Regions from separate parts of the Homo sapiens genome. Here regions 2 and 3 are each linked to region 1. The links come from fine-mapping of genetic effects on gene expression. A gene starts in region 1. Each other region holds a variant in brackets. All regions are shown on one strand. Distances are from middle to middle.

Evidence for each region. PIP is the estimated chance that this variant, and not a neighbour inherited with it, causes the effect.
Region 2: its variant is the best candidate, but not a certain one, in a credible set for the expression of ZNF512B in whole blood (TOPMed, PIP 0.67).
Region 3: its variant is the best candidate, but not a certain one, in a credible set for the expression of ZNF512B in whole blood (TOPMed, PIP 0.74).

The regions. Positions count from the first base shown.
Region 1 is chr20:63,966,928-63,973,570 of GRCh38, forward strand. It overlaps ZNF512B (zinc finger protein 512B), which reads right to left and starts at 3,003. Exons shown (of 17, transcript NM_020713.3): 1 at 2,887-3,003; 2 at 903-1,025; 3 at 454-596; 4 at 1-77. The coding sequence starts at 1,023. RefSeq lists enhancers at 1,355-1,892, 1,893-2,428 and a silencer at 3,111-3,190.
Region 2 is chr20:63,992,747-64,000,108 of GRCh38, forward strand. It overlaps PRPF6 (pre-mRNA processing factor 6), which reads left to right. Exons shown (of 21, transcript NM_012469.4): 4 at 661-739; 5 at 2,170-2,346; 6 at 2,581-2,736; 7 at 6,299-6,393; 8 at 6,857-7,013. Among named protein-coding and RNA genes, the nearest start is that of PRPF6, 15 kb to the left of the region's middle. RefSeq lists an enhancer at 6,905-7,362. The variant G/A (reference allele first, on the strand shown) is at 3,699.
Region 3 is chr20:64,022,882-64,030,243 of GRCh38, forward strand. PRPF6 (pre-mRNA processing factor 6) reads left to right here. Exons shown (of 21, transcript NM_012469.4): 14 at 1,674-1,812; 15 at 3,058-3,177; 16 at 4,101-4,277; 17 at 4,722-4,855; 18 at 5,597-5,688; 19 at 6,496-6,610. Among named protein-coding and RNA genes, the nearest start is that of C20orf204, 9.6 kb to the right of the region's middle. The variant G/A (reference allele first, on the strand shown) is at 3,605.

The DNA of each region.
Region 1 (6,643 bases):
AGCCAGCACCCTGAGTTTGGACACTTCACCCTCGAGTGTGCCTTGAACTCATCCTTCCAGTCGTTCATCAGGGAGAGCTAGGCGTGGGGAAAGGTGGTGCTGCTGACCCGCAGCCACCTGGGCCACTGCCAGCCCGAGCCCCAGACTCAGAGCCCCCCCGGGCCTGCAGGGCACACACACCACATGAGCCCCTCAACCTCGGGACTGCAGTGGGAATTCAAGCCACCTGGCAGGGGCCATGCACAAGACCCGTTCTAGGAGCCCACCAACGCGATCCCCCGAATCTCCCGGCACATCAGATACAAAGCCAGGCCACGTGAAGTCTGCCAGGCCAGTGCCCACATCTTGAGGCATAGAGTTGGTACCAGATGTGCAGAGGACAAATCAGGGCAGGGCAGTGGCTGGATAGGGAGACCCCAGCATGAGCCCCACCATGGCCCTGAGGGAGCTCACAGGAATGTCTCGGAGGGCCTGGTTCTCGGCTTTTGGCCGCCCCTTTTTCTTCCCTTCTGTCTTGTCACTGGCTGGACTTCCCGGGTCAAAGCAGAGAGGGGCCTGGCCGGGCACTGTCTGTCCACCACGGACCACCGGCATCCCTGCAGCACACAACACAGCAAGGCTCGGAAGCTGTGTAGCACCGCCTACCACCGGCGGCTGCACAGGCCCACAGTGAGCACCGCTGTCCCAACACGAGGGCACCGGGGGCAGGGGCTGCGGCCAGCTGAGGACAAGAACCCAGGACCCTGGGCTATGTCCAAGGCAACCCCTACCCTGGTAAGGTCCTTGGGAACTCTAGGGGCCTAGCTGGGTACCTGGAGACAGGACGCCCAGGGCAATGGTCCACTCCTACCACTTGCTGCCCAGAACCATCTGGAATTGACTCTGGCCCTGACTCCTCTTACCCATCTTCGGTGGGTCATGCAGCATTGGAAGTCGGACCTCCTTTCGGCTGCCATCCTTCCCGGGACCACTCTTGCTGGACCCCGGGAGCCGACGGCCTCCAACGCAGAAAGGATCCGTCATCTCTGCAGAGCAAGTAGACAATCTGTGAAGCCTGACGGGCCCCACTTGGAACACGTGGTGAGGCTGCCCTGGAGCCCTGCCCTTGGCAGGTCCTCTCTGGTCAGGGAAGAGGGGCCTGCCTTCCTGTGGTTTTGTTCACGTGGGAAAAGCAAGTGATGGGGGCTTCTGACTTAGGGGAGGGGCTGCCAGCCAAGGTCTCCCCAGATAACCCAGGAGTCATCATCAGTTTGATAGGATCTAGTCCTGTCCTGAGACCCTCACCAACTTCCAGACCCCCTTCCCAACACGCAGCTCTACAGTGTACGCAGCTCCACAGTGTGCGTAGCCCCACAGCTGCGAAGATGATGCCGAAGGTGATGCACTCCTACCCAGTGCTGGGAGGGGGTGTGCCCCTGGGAGAGGTGCCTTGCGCAGGAGGAAGGAGGCTGGCAACATTCCTCCAGGGGCCAATTATGTCTCTGATGATGGCTGCTGGCTCACAAGCTGCCCAGGCCCAGCAGTGGGGGCACAGCTTCTCACTGGGGCCCTCATACCTTCCCATGCTGACTTGATGCAATGCCAGCCTACCCAGGCAGGTACCCTTGGAATCTTCTCTCCAGACACAGATGGAAAACAGCCAAGGTGGGCACTGAGGACCCCTGGCCCAATCTGGCACTGCACCAAGCTCCCGTCCCTGTGCCGGCTGAACTATCCTACCTGATGCTCTTCGCAGACTTGTCTCCAGGCTTGGCAGGCTGACCCGCCCCCCACCTCTCTCTGGATCCTCTCAGTCCTCTGCCTACAGACCCACCACTACCACTTCAGCCAAACAAGTCGTGGAAGCACCAGCAGTGAAGGCCCAGGATGCTGGCCAGAGAGAACGCCCTGCTGCCCAAGGCTGGGGCCCCCGAGGGCCTGTGCTGCTGGGAACCCCATCCTGAGAGCTGGGGAGCAGAGGAGACTCTGGGCCCAGCCCTGTGGAAAAGCCACGGAAGGGGGTGGGACAGGAAGCAGGGTGAGGGTTGAGTGGGCAGGTGGCCCCCTCCTGATAGCTTCTAATTAACTTGGATCCGAGGGGATGGGAAGGGGCTGCTGTGTCCAGGAGGGCCAGAGAGCTGAGGTCAGAGGTCAGGACAGTCACTGCCCATTGCCAAGGGGGAGGCCAGTGTCCGGGGACAAAGTTCTCTGGAAGTCCTCACTTTGCAACTTTTGAAAGGAGACAGGGCCGGCATGAGTCATCCCAGCACCTGATGACCCCGGTGGCCTGGGGTGCAGGTGCCTGCTGAGGCCCCACTTCCAATTTTTCTGAAGCCTGGGAGAAGAATTCAGAATAGTGGGGCCTGAGGCCAGGGCCAGCCTGGGAGGCAGAGACGCGACTGGCGCCCCGGATGAGAAGGGGCTTCGGCCCTCCCGAGCCCAGCGGGGACACAGAGCCCTCGCGGGGAGAGGGGGCTCCGCCGCGCTGCGCGCAGGAGACGCCAGCAGCGGGTCCGCCGCGTAGGCCGTTCGGCCCGGGACCCCGGCCCAGGCCTGGCGCGCGGGTGAGCGCGGCCAGGGACGCGCACCTGGGGCCAGCCTCGCCACCCACCTGTCACCTGGGGCCGGGAGCGGGCGCGGGGCGCGGGCCTCGGCCTGGCCGGGCAGGGCCGATCGCGGGCGCGGGGTGGGGGGGCGAAGGCAGTGAACCAAAATGGCGACTTTTTCTGGAGAAGGAGGAGGCAGGAAGACGGCGCCGGCGCGGGGCGCGGGGGCTCGGGCGCGGCGGGGGGCGGGGGGGCTCCGGGCCCGGCCCCCTCCTTGGCCTGCGCGCAGGGTCGAGATCCGGGGCGCGGTGGGCGCCGGGGCTGCGGCCAGAATGGGTCCGGGGCGCGGCCGGGCGCTTACCTGCGGCGCCCAGCGGGGCTGCGGCCGGGCCGGGCCGGGCCGGGGCGGGGGGCGCGGGGCGCGGGGCGCTGGGTCCGGGCGGCGCAGGCTGCGCGCCGCGCTGCGCACATGCGCGCTCCCGCCCCTCCCACCTTTGACAGTTTTACTGCGGGGGGGAGGGGGCGAACTCTCGCGTTATTCCCGCGGCCGCTCCGCGACGGGGAGGGGGCGGGGAGGGGGCGGGGGCGGGGGCGGGGGCCCGGCGCTGGCCTGTGGTTCCCCCGCTCCGCGGTTCCGCCCCCGTCGGCCGGGCCCGCAGTCCAGAGTAGCCGGTTCTGCCGTCCTGGGGCGGGGGACGTTTTTTGGACAGTGGGGTAAACTGAGGCCCGATAGGGGCGCTAGGCACTGCCCGGAGTCCGGCGCGCACGGATTGAGGCGACCTGATTCCGCCGCATCCTGGCCCGCGCGGCGAGTGTGGTCTCTGGGCTCGGGACCCTGACCTCTGGCCCTGGGGGCCGTGCACCGGCAGCGCAGGATTCAGCCTTCTTCCAACTGGCCCTGAGACCACTTTTGCGACTGACCCCCGGAGGTGCCTGGCGGCTTAAGGCCATGGGGTTTTACTGGGGTCACTGACCATTGGGTCACCCTTTCCCAGCTCTGGGGGCAGTGGTTCTGAACCAGTGCCAGGGCCTTCTCTGCCCCACAGCTTGGGCTTCTGCAGGCAGGGGGCACTGGGGTCCGGTGTGGGCTGAGTGGTCTGGAGGTGGCGGGGCACTGACAGCACAGGACTTGGGAATGAATGAGACAGAGAAAGGTTGGCTCTCCTAAAGAGGACTGGTAGGAGGCACCACACGGGACTGGCACAGGACCCACAAGAATCTCCCCCAGGAGAGCCTGCCTGCCTGCCTGCCTGCCTTCCTTCCTTCCCTCTCTTACTTCCTTCTCTCCTTCCTTCCTTCCTTCTTCCTTCCCTCCCTTCTCTTCCTTCCCTTCCCTCCCTCCCTCCCTTCTTCCTTCCTTTCCTTCCTTCTTCCTTCCTTCCTTTTCTCTTTCCTTCCTTCTCTTCTCTTCCCTCCCTCCCTTCCTCCCTTCCTTCTCTTCCTTCCCTTACCTTCCTCCCTCCCTTCTTCCTTCCTTTCCTTCCTTCTTCCTTCCTTCCCTTCCCTTCCTCCCTTCCTTTTCTCCTTCCTTCCCTTCCTTCTCTTCCCTCCCTCCCTTTCTCCTTCCTTCCTTCCTTTCTCTCTCTTTCTTTTTCTCCCCTCCCCTCCCTTCTCCTCCCCTCCCTTCCCCTCCTCTCCTTTCTCCTTCTCCGTTCTTTTTTTATTCTTGAGATAGGGTCTCGCTCTGTCATTCAGGCTGGAATGCAGTGGTGTGATCTTGGCTCACTGCAGCCTCTACCACCTGGGCTCAAGCAATCCTCCCACCTCGGCCTCCCAAGTAGCTGGAACTACAGGTGTGTGCCACCCCACCTGGCTAAGTTTTAAAGTATTCATAGAGACGAGGTCTTTCTGTGTTGACTAGGCTGGTCTTGAACTCCTGGGCTTAAGCCATCTTCCTGCCTCAGCCTCCCACAGTGTGGGCATTACAGGTGTGACCCACCGCCTCTGGCTAGGAGGGCATTTTTTTTTTTTTTTTTTTTTGAGACAGAGTCTGGCTCTGTAGCCCAGGCTGGAGTGCAGTGGTGCGATCTCGGCTCACTGCAAGCTCCGCCTCCTGGGTTCATGCCATTCTCCTGCCTCAGCCAACCAAGTAGCTGGAACTACAGGCGCCCACCACCACGCCCGGCTAATTTTTTTGTATTTTTAGTAGAGACGGAGTTTCACCCTGTTAGCCAGGATGGTCTCAATCTCCTGACCTCGTGATCCGCCCACCTCGGCCTCCCAAAGTGCTGGGATTACAGGCGTGAGCCACTGCCCCTGGCCTTAGGAGGGCCATTCTTACCTGTTCACAGCACCCATCTCCCAGGGAAGGCCTCAGGCCTCAGGAGGGAAGAGTCAAGGAGACTCTGGGTTTTCATCTTGTGCCCATAGAGCATTTTTTTTTTTTTTTTTTTGAGATGGAGTCTCTCTCTGTTGCCCAGGCTGGACTGCAGTGGCGCCATCTCTGCTCACTGCAACCTCCGCCTCCTGGGTTCAAGCAATTCTGCCTCAGCCCCCTGAGTAGCTGGGATTACAGGCACGTGCCACCATACCCAGCTGATTTTTTGTATTTTTAGTAGAGACGGGGTTTTACCAAGCTGGCCAGGCTGGTCTCGAACTCCTGACCTCGTGATCCACCCACCTCGGCCTCCCAAAGTGCTGGAATTACAGGCATGCGCCACCGCACCCAGCCAGCATTTTTTTTAAAACCATGTGCATATATTACTTTTATAATTAAAACAGACTTTTAAAAGTTTCGTAATGCCCCTTTTTGCATACTACAAATATTCTGGACTCCTTAAAATTGATGTGGGCTGGAAGTTGCTAGTCAGGAAATGGAACTACCAGGTGTGCCTCCTTCGCTGGGGCCCTTCCGGCCCAGTCGGCCCCTTTCCCTGTACCCCGTGGAGCAAGCTCAGAGGCACTGCTAGGGGGTTGGGCAGTAAGATTTTTGCCTTTCCTCAAAGGGGCCTGGGATCTGCTTCACTCAAGGCTGGTGCAGAGCACTCACATGGAGATTGGAGGTTGGCTCTTATAGAAGAGGCAGTCAGTCAATCCTTCCTTCGGGAATCTGAGTCAGAGAGGCCAGTGCACACCAGCCTGTGTGACCCGAGGAGGAAGGGGAGGGCATTCCCTGTGAGGCTAGCGTCATCACGTCCTTCCCTTGTTGACCTTTCCCACCCTGGGGACGGGACCAGCAGGATTTCCTGAGGGGTCAGTGTGTGTCCCCTTAGGTGCAGCCAAGGCCGTCAGCTCTCCCTGTGTAAGTCTGGGTGTCCATACATGCGACCTGTTTGGACATTGCCGTGTCAGGATATGACAGTGTCCCATGCTAGGTGAGACCAATGCCTGTCTGTATTTTAGCATCTGGGCGACTAGACCTCAGGGTACCTGGGGACGATGTGTCTGGATTTCAGTATCCATGTGTCCAGGCTGCGGCATGTCTCAGTGTCAGGGTGCTGGTGAGGGACGGCTGTTTTCTGTGAGCATCTACATGCCAGGGTGTCGTGGAATACAGTGTGTTTGTGTGCACCGGGGATGTGCCGTGTCCCATGTGTTTCTATGTGTTAGGAGGTCGTTGTGTGTCTGCATGCTAGTATTTGTGTATTTGTGTAATGACATCTTTGTATGGGGGCATGCTGTTACATACCTTTGTGTCTGTGTGCCTGGCCAACTACATGCATGTGTTTGTGTGTGTTGGTGTTTGCTGGTGTCAGTGTCATTGAGTCTCTGTGTGTGGTTTATGCTCTTATGTGTCTGATTGCTGTGTGTGTGTGGTGTGTGTGTGTGTGTGTGTGTGTGCTGTGATCTGTGTTTGAGACAGGGTCTTGCTCTGTTGCCCAGGCTGGAGTGCAGTTGTGTGGTTAGAGCTCACTGTGCCTTGAACTCCTGGGCTCAAGGAATCTTCCTGCCTCAGCCTCCCAAGTAGCTGGGACTACGGGTATGCGCCACCATGCCTGGCTAGTTTCAAAAGTTTTTTGTAGAGATGGGGTCTTGCTATGTCACACAGGCTGGTCTTGAACTCCTGGCCTTCAGCGACACTCCTGCCTTGGTCTCCCACAGTGCTGGGATTGCAGGCGTGAGCCACCGTACCAGGCCAGATGTTTGTGTTTTATCCCTGAACGTGTGAATGGGATCTT
Region 2 (7,362 bases), 26 kb after region 1:
ATTTAGAGGCAGAGTCTCTCTGTGTTGCCCAGGCTGGAGTGCAGTGGTGCGATCTTGGCTCACTGCACCCTCTGCCTCCTGGGTTCAAATGATTCTGCCTCAGCCTCCCAAGTAGCTGTGATTACAGGTGTGTGCTACCATGCCCAGCTAAGAATGTATTCATAGTTACCTTAAAATATATTTGATTTGGGCTGGGTGCGGTGGCTCACACCTGTAATCCCAGCACTTTGGGAGGCCAAGGTGGGTAGATCACAAGGTCAGGAGTTCGAGAACAGCCTGGCCAGGATGGTGAAACCCCGTCTCTACTAAAAACACAAAAATTAGCTGGGAGTGGTGGCGAGCACCTGTAATCCCAGCTACTTGGGAGGCTGAGGCAGGAAAATCACTTAAACCCAGGAGGTGGAGGTTGCAGTGAGCTGAGATTGCGCCACTGCACTTTAGCCTGGGTGACAGAGCAAGACTCCATCTCAAAAAAAAAAATGTGTGTGTGTGTGTGTGTGTGTGTGTGTGTGTGTGTATATGTATATATATATATATATATTTGATTTAGCTACTAAGAGTATGGAATTGTTCTTTTTGGTGATTTAATTGAGATGGATAATAAATTTGCTTCAGAACAGACATGCAGTGTTTCTGATGTGTGCATGTTTTATTTCCTAGGGAGCAAAGGGAGAAAGAAGAAATAGAGAAATATCGTATGGAACGCCCCAAAATCCAACAGCAGTTCTCAGACCTCAAGGTGAGCCGATGAAGCGGTGAATGGTGTGCGGTTTCTAACGCTCTCACCCTAACCCGCAGAGACTCAGACTGCTCTTACGTGGAATTTATGAGACTTTACGTTTTTAATTTAGGGGGTCATTGCTTAGAAGAAGAAAGTGTTTGCTTCAGTATGTTTAATTATATGTGTGTAAAAAAAAACCCTTCCCCTACTGTAAAAGGTAGGACAAATGAACTTATTTTCTTTGTAATTTTGACTCCATTTATACCTAAGATTTTCTTTTTTCTTTTTTCTTTTTTTTTTTGGAGGCAGTCTGGCTCTGTTGCCCTGGCTGGAGTGCAGTGGCGTGGTCTCAGCTCACTGCAACCTTCACCTCCTAGGTTCAAGCAATTCTTGTGCCTCAGCCTCCTAAGTAGCTGGGATTACAGGTGCCTGCCACCATACCCAGCTAATTTTTGTATTTTTAGTAAAGACAGGATTTCGCCATGTGTACCAGGCTGGTCTCAAACTCCTGAACTCTAGTGATCTGCCCACCTCAGCCTCCCAAAGGGCTGGGATTACAGGCGTGAGCCACCACGTCTGGCCCCATTTATACGTAAGATTTTCTAAACTGTGTCCCCTGGGCTTTGAGAGAATAATTTACATTTTAGTGAAGTTGAACAGATCCAATAAATTGATTTTTCTTTTCTTTTTCTTTTTTTTTTTTTTTTGAGACGGAGTTTGGCTCTTGTTGCCCAGGCTGGAGTGCAATGACGCGATCTCAGCTCACCGCAACCTCCGCCTCCCAGGTTCAAACGATTCTCCTGCCTCAGCCTCCCTAGTAGCTGGGATTACAGGCATGTGCCACCATGCCCGGCTAATTTTGTATTTTTAGTAGAGATGGGGTTTCTCCATGTTGGTCAGGCTGGTCTCGAACTCCCGACCTCAGGTGATCTGCCCGCTTTGGCCTCCCAAAGTGCTGGGATTAACAGGCATGAGCCACCGTGCCCGGCCTAAATTGATTTTTCTAAGTGAAGTAGAAAACTATTTTTGGGGCTGGGTACAGTGGCTCACATCTGTAATCTCAGCACTTTGGGAGGCTGAGGTGGGAGGATCACTTGAGCCCAGGAGTTTGAGACCAGCCTTGGGGAGAACCTGTCTTTACAAAAAATAAAAACTTAGCCAGGCATGGTGGCCCACGCTTGTGGTCCCAGCAACTTGAGAAGCTGAAGTGGGAGGATCACTTGAGCCTGGGAGGTTGAGGCTGCAGTGAGCTGTGATTGTGCCACTGAATCCAGCCTGGGCAACAGAATGAGACCCATCTCAAAACAAAAGTAAAAAACAGTTGCTGCATCCAAATCCCTTCTAAAGCTTGGTGATCTGGAGGCTAGGGGTGAGAGAGGGCATGGTCCTACCTGGGCACATGAAATTCTGTCAGAGAATTAATGTTTTTGGGGGCTGGATATTTCCAGAGGAAGTTGGCAGAAGTCACAGAAGAAGAGTGGCTGAGCATCCCCGAGGTTGGCGATGCCAGAAATAAACGTCAGCGGAACCCACGCTATGAGAAGCTGACCCCTGTTCCTGACAGTTTCTTTGCCAAACATTTACAGACCGGAGAGAACCATACCTCAGTGGATCCCCGACAAACTGTGAGCTTCCAAAAAAGGGCACATGTGGCCCATTTAGTCCTGTTAGATCAGTGGCAGGAATGGTGGGTGGTGTTGGATTCAATGCTTCTGCAGGTCATGGCTATGCTGTGGCCGAGTCTGTCTGCACAGCTGTGCATATGTCAGGCCACTGGGGAAGTATTTCAGAGAGTAAATTTCTTGGGCATGCAGTGCAAACCGTTGTTTTATTCTTGCCTTTCCTCTCTTCCCCTCCAGCAATTTGGAGGTCTTAACACACCCTATCCAGGTGGACTAAACACTCCATACCCAGGTGGAATGACGCCAGGACTGATGACACCTGGCACAGGTGAGCTGGACATGAGGAAGATTGGCCAAGCGAGGAACACTCTGATGGACATGAGGCTGAGCCAGGTGAGTTTGTCACACAGCATTTTCCTGTGGACAGGTTTAGACAGTTTAATTTTGTTTTGTTTTCTTTTTCTCCTTCTTCTTCTTCTCCTTTTTCTTCTCCTCCTTCTCCTCCTCCTCCTTCTTCTCCTTCTCCTTTTTTTTTTTTTGGCTTGATTTTTGCCTGAATAATTCCGCAGATTTTTAAAATTTTGACCCAGAGTCTTGCTGTGTCACTCAGAGGCTGGAGTGCAATGGTGTGATCTTGGCTCACTGCAACCTCCACCTCCTGGGTTCAAGTGATTCTCCTACCTCAGCCTCCTGAGTAGCTGGGATTACAGGTGCCCACCACCACACCCGGCTAATTTTTGTATTTTTTGTAGAGACGGGGTTTTACCATGTTGGCCAGGCTGGTCTTGAACTCCTGACCTCAGGTGATCTGTCTGCCTTGGCCTCCCAAAATGCGGGGATTACAGGTGTGAGCCACTGCACTTGGCCTTTTTTTAAAATATAAAATAATAATTTTTTAAAAAGTGTGTTTTTTTCCTGCCTCTCAGTAAATTGTCTTGTGGCCCTGCATGGAACGTGTACTTTGATCTGGAGACTAGGTGCTCTAGACACCAGTGAAGTACAGAACTCTTTCTGATATGCATATCAGATACCACGAAGGAACATACTACTTTTGGCCTGGCCAACATGGTGAAACCCCGTCTCTACTAAAAATACAGAAATTGGCCAGGTGTGGTGGCGGGCGCCTGTAATCCCAGCTACTTGGGAGGCTAAGGCAGGAGAATTGCTTGAACCCGGGCGTTGGAGGTTGCAGTGAGCCGAGATTGCACCAGTGCACTCCGGCCTGGGCAACAGAGTGAGACTGTCTCAAAATAAAAAACAAAAACAAAAACAAAAAGTGGCACAATCATGGCTGGCTACATACAGCCTTGACCTCCCTGGGCTAAGGCGATCCTTCCACCTCAGCCTGCCAAGTA[G/A]CTGAGATTACAGGCATGTGCCACCATACCCAACTAATTTTTGTATTTTTTGTTGAGATGGGGTGTCACTAGGTTGCCCAACCTGGGCTGGAGCTCCTGGGCACAAGTGATCTGTCCGCGCTGGCCTCACAAAGTGCTGGGATTACAGGTGTGAACTACCATGCCCAGCCTGAAATTTGTTTACATAGAAATTGTAAAACTTTTTGGGCCAGGCACTCATGCCTGTAATCCTAGCACTTTGAGAGACCAAGGTAGGAGGATTGCTTGAGGTCAGGAGTTCAAGACCAGCCTGGGCAACATGGTGATGGTGAGACTCTGTCTCTACAAAAACTAAAAGAAATAGCTGGGCCTGGTGGTGCCTGTAGTCCCAGCTGTTCGAGAGGCTGAGGTGGAAGGATTGCTTGAGCTAGGGAGTTTGAGGCTGCCATGAGCTATGATCGCGCCTCTGCACACCAGCCTGGGTTACGGAGTGAGACTGTCTCAATAAATAAATAAAACTGTCACAGTAATTTTTTTGTGGTAAAATATATGTAACACAGAATTTACCATTTTAATCATTCTTGACTGTACATACCTTCACTGACATAATTATGTTCATGTTGTTATACAACCTCATCACCATTCATCTCCAGAACTGTTTTCATCTTCCCAAATTGAAACTCCGTACCTGTTAAACATTGAGTCCCCGTGCGCTTTCTCCCCAGCCCCTGGCATCCACCGTTCTCTCTGTTTCTATAAATGTCACTACTCTCTGGATCTTATATGACTGGAATCATACAGTATTTACCTTACTGTGACAGGCTTATTTCAATTAGCTCATGGTGCAGCATGCGTCAGCATGTTCTTTTTTTTTTTTTTTTTTTTGAGACAGAGTCTCTCTCTGTCACCCAGGCTGGAGTTCAATGGCATGGTCTTGGCTCACTGCAGCCTCCGCCTCTCGGGTTCAAATGATTCTCCCACCTGAGCCTCCCAAGTAGCTGGGACTACAGGTGTGCACCACCAAGCCCAGCTAATTTTTTTTTTTTTTTTTGAGACGGAGCCTGGCACCGTCACCCGAGCTGGAGTGCAGTGGTGTGATCTCGGCTCACTGCAACCTCCACCTCCTGGGTTCAGGTGATTCTCCTGCCTCAGCCTCCCGAGTAGCTGGAACTATAGGCGTGTGCCACCATGTCTGGCTAATTTTTGTATTTTTAGTAGAGACGGGGTTTCATCATGTTGGCCAGGATGGTCTTGATCTCCTGACCTCGTGATCCACTCGCCTCAGCCTCCCAGGATGCTGGGATTAGAAGTGTGATTTTTTTGTATTTTTAGTTAGAGATGGGATTTCACCATGTTGGCCAGGCTGGTCTCGAACTCCTGACCTCCAGTGATCCACGTGGCTCGGCCTCCCAAAGTGCTGGGATTACAGGCATGAGCCCCGGCGCCCCGGCCAGCATGTTCTCAGTTTAAGGCAGGATGAGACTTGACTCTTTGGTGTGTGTGGACCGCATTCGCTCATCTATGTAGACCGCATTCGCTGACCTGTTTATTCGCTGACGGACACTTGGACCACTTTCACCTTTTGACTATTGTGAATAATGCTGCTGTGAATACGGGTGTACAGATATTTGTCAGAGACCCTGCTTTCTATTCTTTCTTTTTTAATAAAAATTTTATTTATTTTTTTTTGAGACGGGGTCTTGCTCTGTCACCCAGGCTGGAGGGCAGTGGCGTGATCTCGGCTCACTGCAGCCTCTGCTTCCCAGGTTCATGTGATTCTCCTGCCTCAGCCTCCTGAGTAGCTGGGACTACAGGCATGTGCCACCACGCCTGGCTAATTTTTGTATTTTTAGTAGACACGGGGTTTCACCATCCTGGCCAGGCTGGTCTCGAACTCCTGATCTTGTGATCCACCCACCTTGGCCTCCCAAAGTGCTGGGTTTACAGGCGTGAGCCACCACGCCTGGTCAAAAATTACACTTTTTTTTGTAGAGACAGAATCTTGGGAGGCTGAGGCAGGAGGATTCCTTGAGCCCAGGAGCTGGAGGCTGCACTGAGCTATGATTGCCACTGCACTCCTGCTTGGGTGACAGAGTGAGACCCTGTCTCAAAAAAATAAATAAAAATATAGATCTTGGACAGACGCGGTGGCTCACGCCTGTAATCCCAGCACTTTGGGAGGCCGAGGCGGGCGGATCACGAGGTCAGGAGATCGAGACCATCCTGGCTAACACGGTGAAACCCCGTCTCTACTAAAAATACAAAAAAATTAGCCAGGTGTGGTGGCGGGCGCCTGTAGTCCCAGCCACTCGGGAGGCTGAGGCAGGAGGATGGCGTGAACCTGGGAGGTGGAGCTTGCAGTGAGCCGAGATTGCACAACTGCACTCCAGCCTGGGCGACAGAGCGAGACTCCATCTCAAAAAAAAAAAAAAAATAGATCTTTTTCCATACAGAAGAAATTTGTTATTATCACAAGGTGTTGTCTGAGTGAAATGAAGGCTGTTTTCCTTCTCCTTCTGACTGCTCTCTCAGGGTTGTGGGAGGGGCACCAGGGACCCTCTGAGAACTTTGTTTTGCACCTGGTCATGTCCAGCTGACTCTTAGCTTGGCCTGTCTCACAGGTGTCTGACTCCGTGAGTGGACAGACCGTCGTTGACCCCAAAGGCTACCTGACGGATTTAAATTCCATGATCCCGACACACGGAGGAGACATCAAGTGAGTGCTTTGCAGAATCGCTGGGCTGGGATGGAGACTCTAGTTGCCTAGGGTATTTTGGATTTTATATGGACAGTATGCTGTCAAAATGGGACATGGCGGTTCTAAGAAATGTAAAGTGGAGTAGTTTGTTTTTTCCATTTGAAATGTATCTGTATCCATTCATTGCGTACACTCAATGTGTTACATATGATACTGCAAAGTCCCTGCCTGTGCTGGGCAGGAAAGCAGCTGGCTGTGTCCCACATGTCCCATCTGGACCTTCGGTTCTCAGCGTTTGTCTGCGGGGAGGCTACAGAGGCTTGGAATAGTGCGCACTGAGGTTTTGAGTTGGTTTTTGTAACTCAGGACATCAGGACTGATAGTTCTTACATTGTGACTGTGAAGTGGGTGCCCTCATCCCAGGTCTCGGGTGCACCCCTGACAGCATGGCCTGATGCCGTGTGCACTCTCCCTCTCATAGTGATATCAAGAAGGCGCGACTGCTCCTCAAGTCTGTTCGGGAGACGAACCCTCATCACCCGCCAGCCTGGATTGCATCAGCCCGCCTGGAAGAAGTCACTGGGAAGCTACAAGTAGCTCGGAACCTTATCATGAAGGGGACGGAGATGTGCCCCAAGGTGAGGTATTTCCTGGGAGGCGTTTCCTGGGAGGCTGCGTGATTGTGGCCCCTACGGGAGTAAACTTGTTAGAGCAAATCTCTTTGTCTTTTGGTATTGAAACTACAGACAATAGGGCAGGCTGGGGGAGGATGTGAAAAGCAGCCAAGGGCTTTTTCCTGCTTGTTTTCATGTGGAGTGAAGGCTAATCCACCACTTTTTTTTTTTTTGGAGACGGAGTCTCGCTCTGTCACCCAGGCTGGAGTGCAGTGGCACGATCTCGGCTCACCGCAAGCTCCACCTGCCAGGTTCACACCATTGTCCTGTCTCAGCCTCCAGAGTAGCTGGCACTATAGGCGCCCGCCACCAT
Region 3 (7,362 bases), 56 kb after region 1:
TGTGGTGGGACCCGCCTGCCCAAGGGTGCTAATGAAACCTCCAGCTCCATTTGTGTAGCCCTGAATTTAAACCTCTCATGTCTGCTCATCCAGTCTTGTGCCCATTTGAGGTCTGGCCCTCTGGTTGTGATGAAGGATTTTATGGCATTTGGGACTTTGCAACTGGATCCATCTTTATAGCCCCTTCTGGGACAGCAATGATACCATTTTCTAGCTGAGAAACAAGGAACCCCGGGGGCCCGTCCTGCTAAGTGTCCTGTAGCCTGAGGAGTGGCCTGGGTATAGACTTGAGGCTGGAGCCCGCGTGGCCCATGGCCGAGCACTGGCTGCAGCGGTGGGTGGGGCAGCATCTGGGCTCAGGCAGGCATATTTTCCATTTAAGCTGTGCTGGCTTTGGGTTTTGACTGGTTTTTGTGCTCAGAGGAGGTCCTTGACAATTTTATTTAACTGCACTCTTTAATTGAAAACATCTTTCAGGTCCGCTTTATTGGCTGTAAATGCTGATTAAATTTGGCGTTGCAGTTTATTGTTTTAAATGGATAGCTCTCAAGGGCATTGGGCTCGTGTCCCCACGCACCCTCTGTCCGTCCTCTCCCAGGTCCTCGGGTGATGCTCCCTGTACCAGGTGAGGACAGGCCCTGCTGGTTTCACTGGGGCTACAGCTGAGAATGTTGAGCCATTGTCTCTTTGCTTTTCTGGTGTGATTTAATCTCAGCCTCTTCAGGGTGTCTTTCCATGTGTCCTCCTGAAGACCTGGCCCCCTCCCCATGCCCACCAGCTGGTCTGTGTTTGGGAGTGATCTCCTTTGGGGACGTTTTGAAATGGCTGCCATGGTGCCCCTCTGTAGAAGGTCACCTGGGGCAGTCTGAGTGAAGAACAGGGCGGTGCCAGGTGTAGGCTGAGGTCTCTCGGCCCGTGACCTGAATATGAACTGCTGCCCTTGACCCCTGGGCACAGTGGGCAGTGCCCTCCGACTTCCCTGCCTTCTCCCGAGTGCATGCTTGCAGGGATGAGGAGAGGCAGTAGTGCTGGGGGAGCTGGTCCTCTGGAGAGCACGGTTGCTTTGCTGGCCCTTGCTCCACACAGTGTGATTGTGTGTGGTCACTTTGTCTTGCTGTCGCACTCACTGAGGCCCAAAGGGGTCATTGATGTGACTGAGGGTGGTGGGCCACATGAGAGTCCAGGAGCATCAGACCTGATGCCCACGGCTGGCAGTTTTGCTCAATAGTGACCTGAAATCACTTTCTTCCTATAAGATAATTCTTTTGGATGCCGGGAGAGTGAACCTGGGATCATAATCTTTATCAGTGGGTCCGGGGTGCGCTTGTGCTCTGTGGTTCAAGATGAAAAGGCCTCCCCTGTCACAGACTGAGGTTATTGCTGCTTCCAGGACACACGGCTGTAAAAGGTTCTCTTGTGAAGTTCGTCTCTCCAGCTCTGCTATTTAAACAATGCATTCCTTTGTAGAACCCTCTTCAGTAGTTGATTTTAGAACCTTTATGGAGAGGAAAGATTTCCCCACACTCTCCCCATTGTAAAATCTGGTCAATCATTTATAGCATCGAACTTTGGAGCAGTAACTGTCTTTCTGGCGTGCCCACGCCATGGCTGAGTGTGATGTGTGTTCTGGTTTATGGCCCTGCCTCTGGTGACCGTGGCCTCTTATCTTGCAGGGAGTCCCTGGAAGCACTCCTGCAGAGGGCTGTGGCCCACTGCCCCAAAGCAGAGGTGCTGTGGCTCATGGGCGCCAAGTCCAAGTGGCTGGCAGGGGATGTGCCTGCAGCAAGGAGCATCCTGGCCCTGGCCTTCCAGGTGGGTGAGGGTTGCCTGTGTGGTGAGGGGCCTGTGCACACAGGAGCTGACCTGGGTGCTGACTGGGGCCTGAAAATCTCCCACATACAATGTGGCACGTGCTGTTGTTGGGGTGCACTGGAGTCCAGGGGCTGCTCCACAGGAGCAGGGGCCGTGAAGGGGCCCGAGAGCAGGAAAGCAGCCCACCTGGCAGATACTTACCTCTCGGTCCCCCCACTCAGTGTGACCACGGGTAAATGTTTCAGAACATGGAACACGGGGTCACACAGGCTGAGGGCGCCCTTATGTGAATGGATGTATTCAGACCGCCTCACTGAGCCAGGCCTGAGGGTGCCTGGTTGTCATGAGGGGGGTGTGTGTTTTTTTTAAGTACCTTGTCTTTATTTTCACATATAACATCCTAATAGTTTATAACATACTTTTTAATAAGCTATAGAATGCTATATAAAAGTCTGTTACTGTAGCTCAGGCTAATATCATAGAGTGTGCCCTTCTTTGAGCAAATACCATGAGAGGGGACTGGCCTGGGTTTAACCTTTCGCTCTCAGCTGCCTGTTTGAGATGGCATCACTCCTGTGAGTAACTGCAGCGTCCCCTCCACCTGCCCGCTCTCTGCCTGTCACGTGGCTTCCTTCCACCCGCTCTCTTGGGCGGCTGTGCTGATTGGGACGCATTCAGACAGCCCTGGGCACCGGGCTGGGGAGGCTTTGAGGGCAGAGCCTGCGTGTCCACTGGGCTCTGGGCTGTGTGAGCTTCCGTGGCTTGTGGACGCCTTCTCCACATGTCAGTGGCACCCTGGGAGTCCTCTCTCCTGCCCATGTGGGCTCATGAGGACAGGACAGCTGGCTTCCCTTCATCAAGCTCAGGGGAAAGAGCGAGGTTGCGTGTGATGAGTCTACCAGTATAGGATGCGAGTGCCCCATTCAGGGGCTTTGAGAGGGCGTGGGTGGATCCTGGGTAAGATGGCCCTGCACCTGCCCCCGTTATTGCTCGAGTGCTTTAGCAGCCTCTTCACTGTCCTCACTGTACCAGAGTGAACATGGGCCTGTGTGTTTCCAGGTGAGTCTGGATTCTTGCACTGGAGTCGGCTCTGTCATCTCCTCCCTGGGAAGGGCTTGGACCAGACTAATCCTGTAGCAGAGCAAGGCCTGGCTCAGTTCCTGCCTGCCTGCTTTTGATTAAGTGTGATCAGGCGCTGGTCCCTGTGTTCTGACCCCTCTTGACGCTGCTGTACTTGCCCTTCAGGCCAACCCCAACAGTGAGGAGATCTGGCTGGCAGCCGTGAAGCTGGAGTCCGAGAATGATGAGTACGAGCGGGCCCGGAGGCTGCTGGCCAAGGCGCGGAGCAGTGCCCCCACCGCCCGGGTACGCAGTGGCAGGCAGGGCTGGGCCGTCTGGGGTGCATGGTGTGCACATGCGGGCCCCACGCCTGGCTTGGGTGGTGATGGGAGTGAGATGACGGCAGGCAAACGAGACCACAGCACACTCATCTTTGTGATGTGACTAAAACATTCATGTGGCCGGGCGTGGTGGCCGGGCGCGGTGGCTCACGCCTGTAATCTCAGCACTTTGGGAGGCCAAGGCGGACAGATCACCTGAGGGTGGGAGTTTGAGACCAGCCTGACCAACATGGAGAAACCCCGTCTCTACTAAAAATACAAAATTAGCCGGGCGTGGTGGTGCGTGCCTGTAATCCCAGCTGCTCGGGAGGCTGAGGCAGGAGAATCGCTTGAACCCCGGGGGTGGAGGTTGCGGTGAGCTGAGATCGCGCCACTGCACTCCAGCCTGGGCA[G/A]CAAGAGGGAAACTGTCTCAGCAACAACAACAACAACAAACATGTTCATACGGCCGGGTGTGGTGGCTCACGCCTGTAATCCCAGCACTTTGGGAGGCCAAGGCAGGTAGATTGTGAGATCAGGAGTTCGACACCAGCCTGACCAACTCTGCTAAAAATACAAAATTAGCTGGGTGTGGTGGCTTGCACCTGTAGTTCCAGCTACTTGGGAGGCTGAGGCAGGAGAATGGTGTGAACCCAGCAGGTGGAGCTTGCAGTGAGCCGAGATCGTGCCACTGCACTCCAGCCTGGGTGACAGAGCGAGACTCTATCTCAAAAAAAAACAAAACAAAACAAAAACATATATTTATCCCCACCTTTTGTGTACACAAACAGGCTATGAAAAGCTTACAAAAGTACACACAGTACTGCAGGTAACAGTGTTGAGGATGAGTGTACCATGAAGCACGTACCCTGGAGCTGATGCCCTGCGTGACAGTGCATGTCTGCCCCACAGGTGTTCATGAAGTCTGTGAAGCTGGAGTGGGTGCAAGACAACATCAGGGCAGCCCAAGATCTGTGCGAGGAGGCCCTGCGGCACTATGAGGACTTCCCCAAGCTGTGGATGATGAAGGGGCAGATCGAGGAGCAGAAGGAGATGATGGAGAAGGCGCGGGAAGCCTATAACCAGGGGGTACGTCTCTGCCTGCACCCTGGGGCTGCAGCTGACCCGGCATTCACAAAACTGAGCCCCCTGGTGCAGGGTCATTGCCCTTCGCCTCTGAGGAGATGTGGAGGGCTGGGGGTTACAGCTGATGGAGCTGCAGACTCAGGACCCAAACCCTGGTCCCCTCGCTGAGTTCTGTGCTTTTCCTTATATGAAGCTGCACACACTGCTCAGAAGTGCAGAGTGTGGCACACCTGCAGTAAAGGCTGGTACGTACAGACCTGTGTGCACAGGTCCACAGCACCACCGCACACCTGTACACCCACAAATGCAGAGTGTGAGGGGTGTTTTTCCATGGACATGGCAGCCCTGAGGGACTCGGTCACCCACTGCAGATGAGAAGCTGGGCATGGCTGTGTCCCAGTTCTTCATAGACACCACCTGAGCTGCTCTCTTACTTGTTGGTTGCAGTTGAAGAAGTGTCCCCACTCCACACCCCTGTGGCTTTTGCTCTCTCGGCTGGAGGAGAAGATTGGGCAGCTTACTCGAGCACGGGCCATTTTGGAAAAGTCTCGTCTGAAGAACCCAAAGAACCCTGGGCTGTGGTGAGTCCTGGAGGGGGCAGCCTGGCCTCTGGGCACAGCTTCCCCATCAGGTGGGCCGCCGTCACCCAGCTGCTTGTGTGGAGTCACTCGTGCAGTGCTTCCAGGCTCAGGGGCTTGGGGGGCGGTAGGTGCTGGCCATGAAAAATCACGGTCCCTGCCTTAGGAGAGTTCGGCCTAGGTACTGTGACAGGCCTGTAGATGGTTTGATGCAGTTTAATTTGTGTTCTGATGGAGGGCGCCTGGGAGAGGGAGGGGTTAATGATGGCTGGGACGAGGGAAGGATGGACCCCGGAGAGCCAGCTCCACAGAGGAGGTGGCGTGGAGAGCCCTGGAGGTGGACAGGAGCCTGCTAGGTGCAGGCTCTGTTCATGGAGGTGCTGCGTCCAGCTCAGGGTGACGGGGCTGGAGCACTGTGCAGGCACTGCCGCAGACAGGCAGCTTCTGGGTGCCTTGTGCGGCCCTGGCTCTCCCAGTCTGGTCTTGTTTGTTCTGGATGCCTTCACCTGCATCTGGACAGCGTCAGGATCTGAGGTCTTGCCTTGGGGCGGTTGCCAGTGGGGCTGGCAGGGATGTGGGCCCCAGCGCCTTGTTTCTGTGGTGGATGAGCTCTGCTGTGGAGGGAATGGAGTTTTTGCTGCTGTGACTGGGTGGAGAGCCCTTTCAGACAAGGCTTCCCAGAAGCTACCAGAATATGTGCTGTTGGTAGACGGCTGTGGGACCTCCGGGGGCCTGTCTCCTCAGGTTGGAGTCCGTGCGGCTGGAGTACCGTGCGGGGCTGAAGAACATCGCAAATACACTCATGGCCAAGGCGCTGCAGGAGTGCCCCAACTCCGGTAAGGGGGTGCCCCGACTCCGGTAAGGGGGTGCCCTGACTCCGGTAAGGGGGTGCCTTGACTCCGGTAAGGGGGTGCTTCCTGGCTTCCCAGACTCCGCAGGGCTGGCACTTCCTGAGGGAGTGGGGGCTCAGGCTTCAGACGGACTTTATTAAAATGTGTAGTTTGTGTGAATCATTTCAGTCAAAAGTTTCAGCTATACTCGGCCGTTAAGACAACTTAATGAAATTCTTGGCCTCAAAATGGGAGAATTTGATTTCATTTCTGAAGTGTTATCATTTCTTTTTCTTTTAAAATTTAAAAGAAATTGGCCAGGTGTGGTGGCTCATGCCTGTAATCTCAGCACTTTGAGAGACTGAGGCGGGAGGATTGCTTGAGTCCAGGAGTCCATTGCTTGAGACCAGCCTGGCCAACATGGTGAAACCCCGTCTCTACTAAAATACAAAAATGAGCTGGGCATGGTGGCGGGCGCCTGTAATCCCAGCTACTCGGGAGGCTGAGGCAGGAGAATTGCTTGAGCCCGGGAGTGGGAGGTTGCAGTGAGCTGAGATTGCGCCATTGCACTCCACCCTGAATGACAGAGTGAGACTCTGCAGGGTGTCCAGTCTGTGCCCTCAGGGCTGCCATGGTTTTGGGTGGGCCAGAGTGCTCATCCTTTGTGGTTCTCCTTGCACAAGTTCTGCGAGCCGTGTGTGGGAGGCCCCTGTCGTGGTCTGAGGACGTCCCGGGTTAGAATCTGTAGGCTGGGCACCTTTCCGGAACCAGAGGCTGGAGTGCAAATCTTTGTTCTTTGTTTCTGAATTATAGGTATCCTGTGGTCTGAGGCCATCTTCCTCGAGGCAAGGCCCCAGAGGAGGACCAAGAGCGTGGATGCCCTGAAGAAGTGTGAGCATGACCCCCATGTGCTCCTGGCCGTGGCCAAGTGAGTGGGGCCCCCACAGGATTGCTGAACCTCGGGGTCCTAATGGGCTCTTTTTCCAGAGTCTGTCTGCCTCTTCCTGGTCATTGTAAAGATGCCCGGCAGCAGGGTGGGCTTCCCCGATCCTCGGCTGCCGTCGCTCCTGCTGTGGTCTGGGGCAGGCGCCTCTCCTGGCAGACACACCTGAGGGTGCCGTGGTCAGAGACTCACTGGGGACGCATGTGATTCACACTGGTGCGCTGGCCGCCGGGTCACAGACTCACTGGGGACGCGTGTGATTCACACTGGTGCGCTGGCCGCCAGGTCAGAGACTCACCGGGGACGCATGTGATTCACACTGGTGCTCTGGTCGCCGGGTCAGAGACTCACTGGGGACGCATGTGATTCACACTGGTGCGCTGGCCGCCGGGTCAGAGACTCACTGGGGACACATGTGATTCACACTGGTGTGCTGGCCGCCGGGTCAGAGACTCACTGGGGACGCGTGTGATTCACACTGGTGCGCTGGCCGCTGGGTCAGAGACTCACTGGGGACGTGACTCTGGAACCTTGCAGGCAGCAGCGGGTAGCCATGGGGCAGAGCATGCAGACTCTAGGCACATGTGGGCAAAGACCCGCCAGGTGTGGGGCACAGCAGGGAGCTCAGGGCCATCCCCGACCCCCAGGGTCCCTGTTTCCTTCTAGAAAGAGGATGACAGTCTGGGAAGGAGCTGGGCCTGAGTGTGGGTCAGGAGGCTGGGAAGTGACCATGTGGG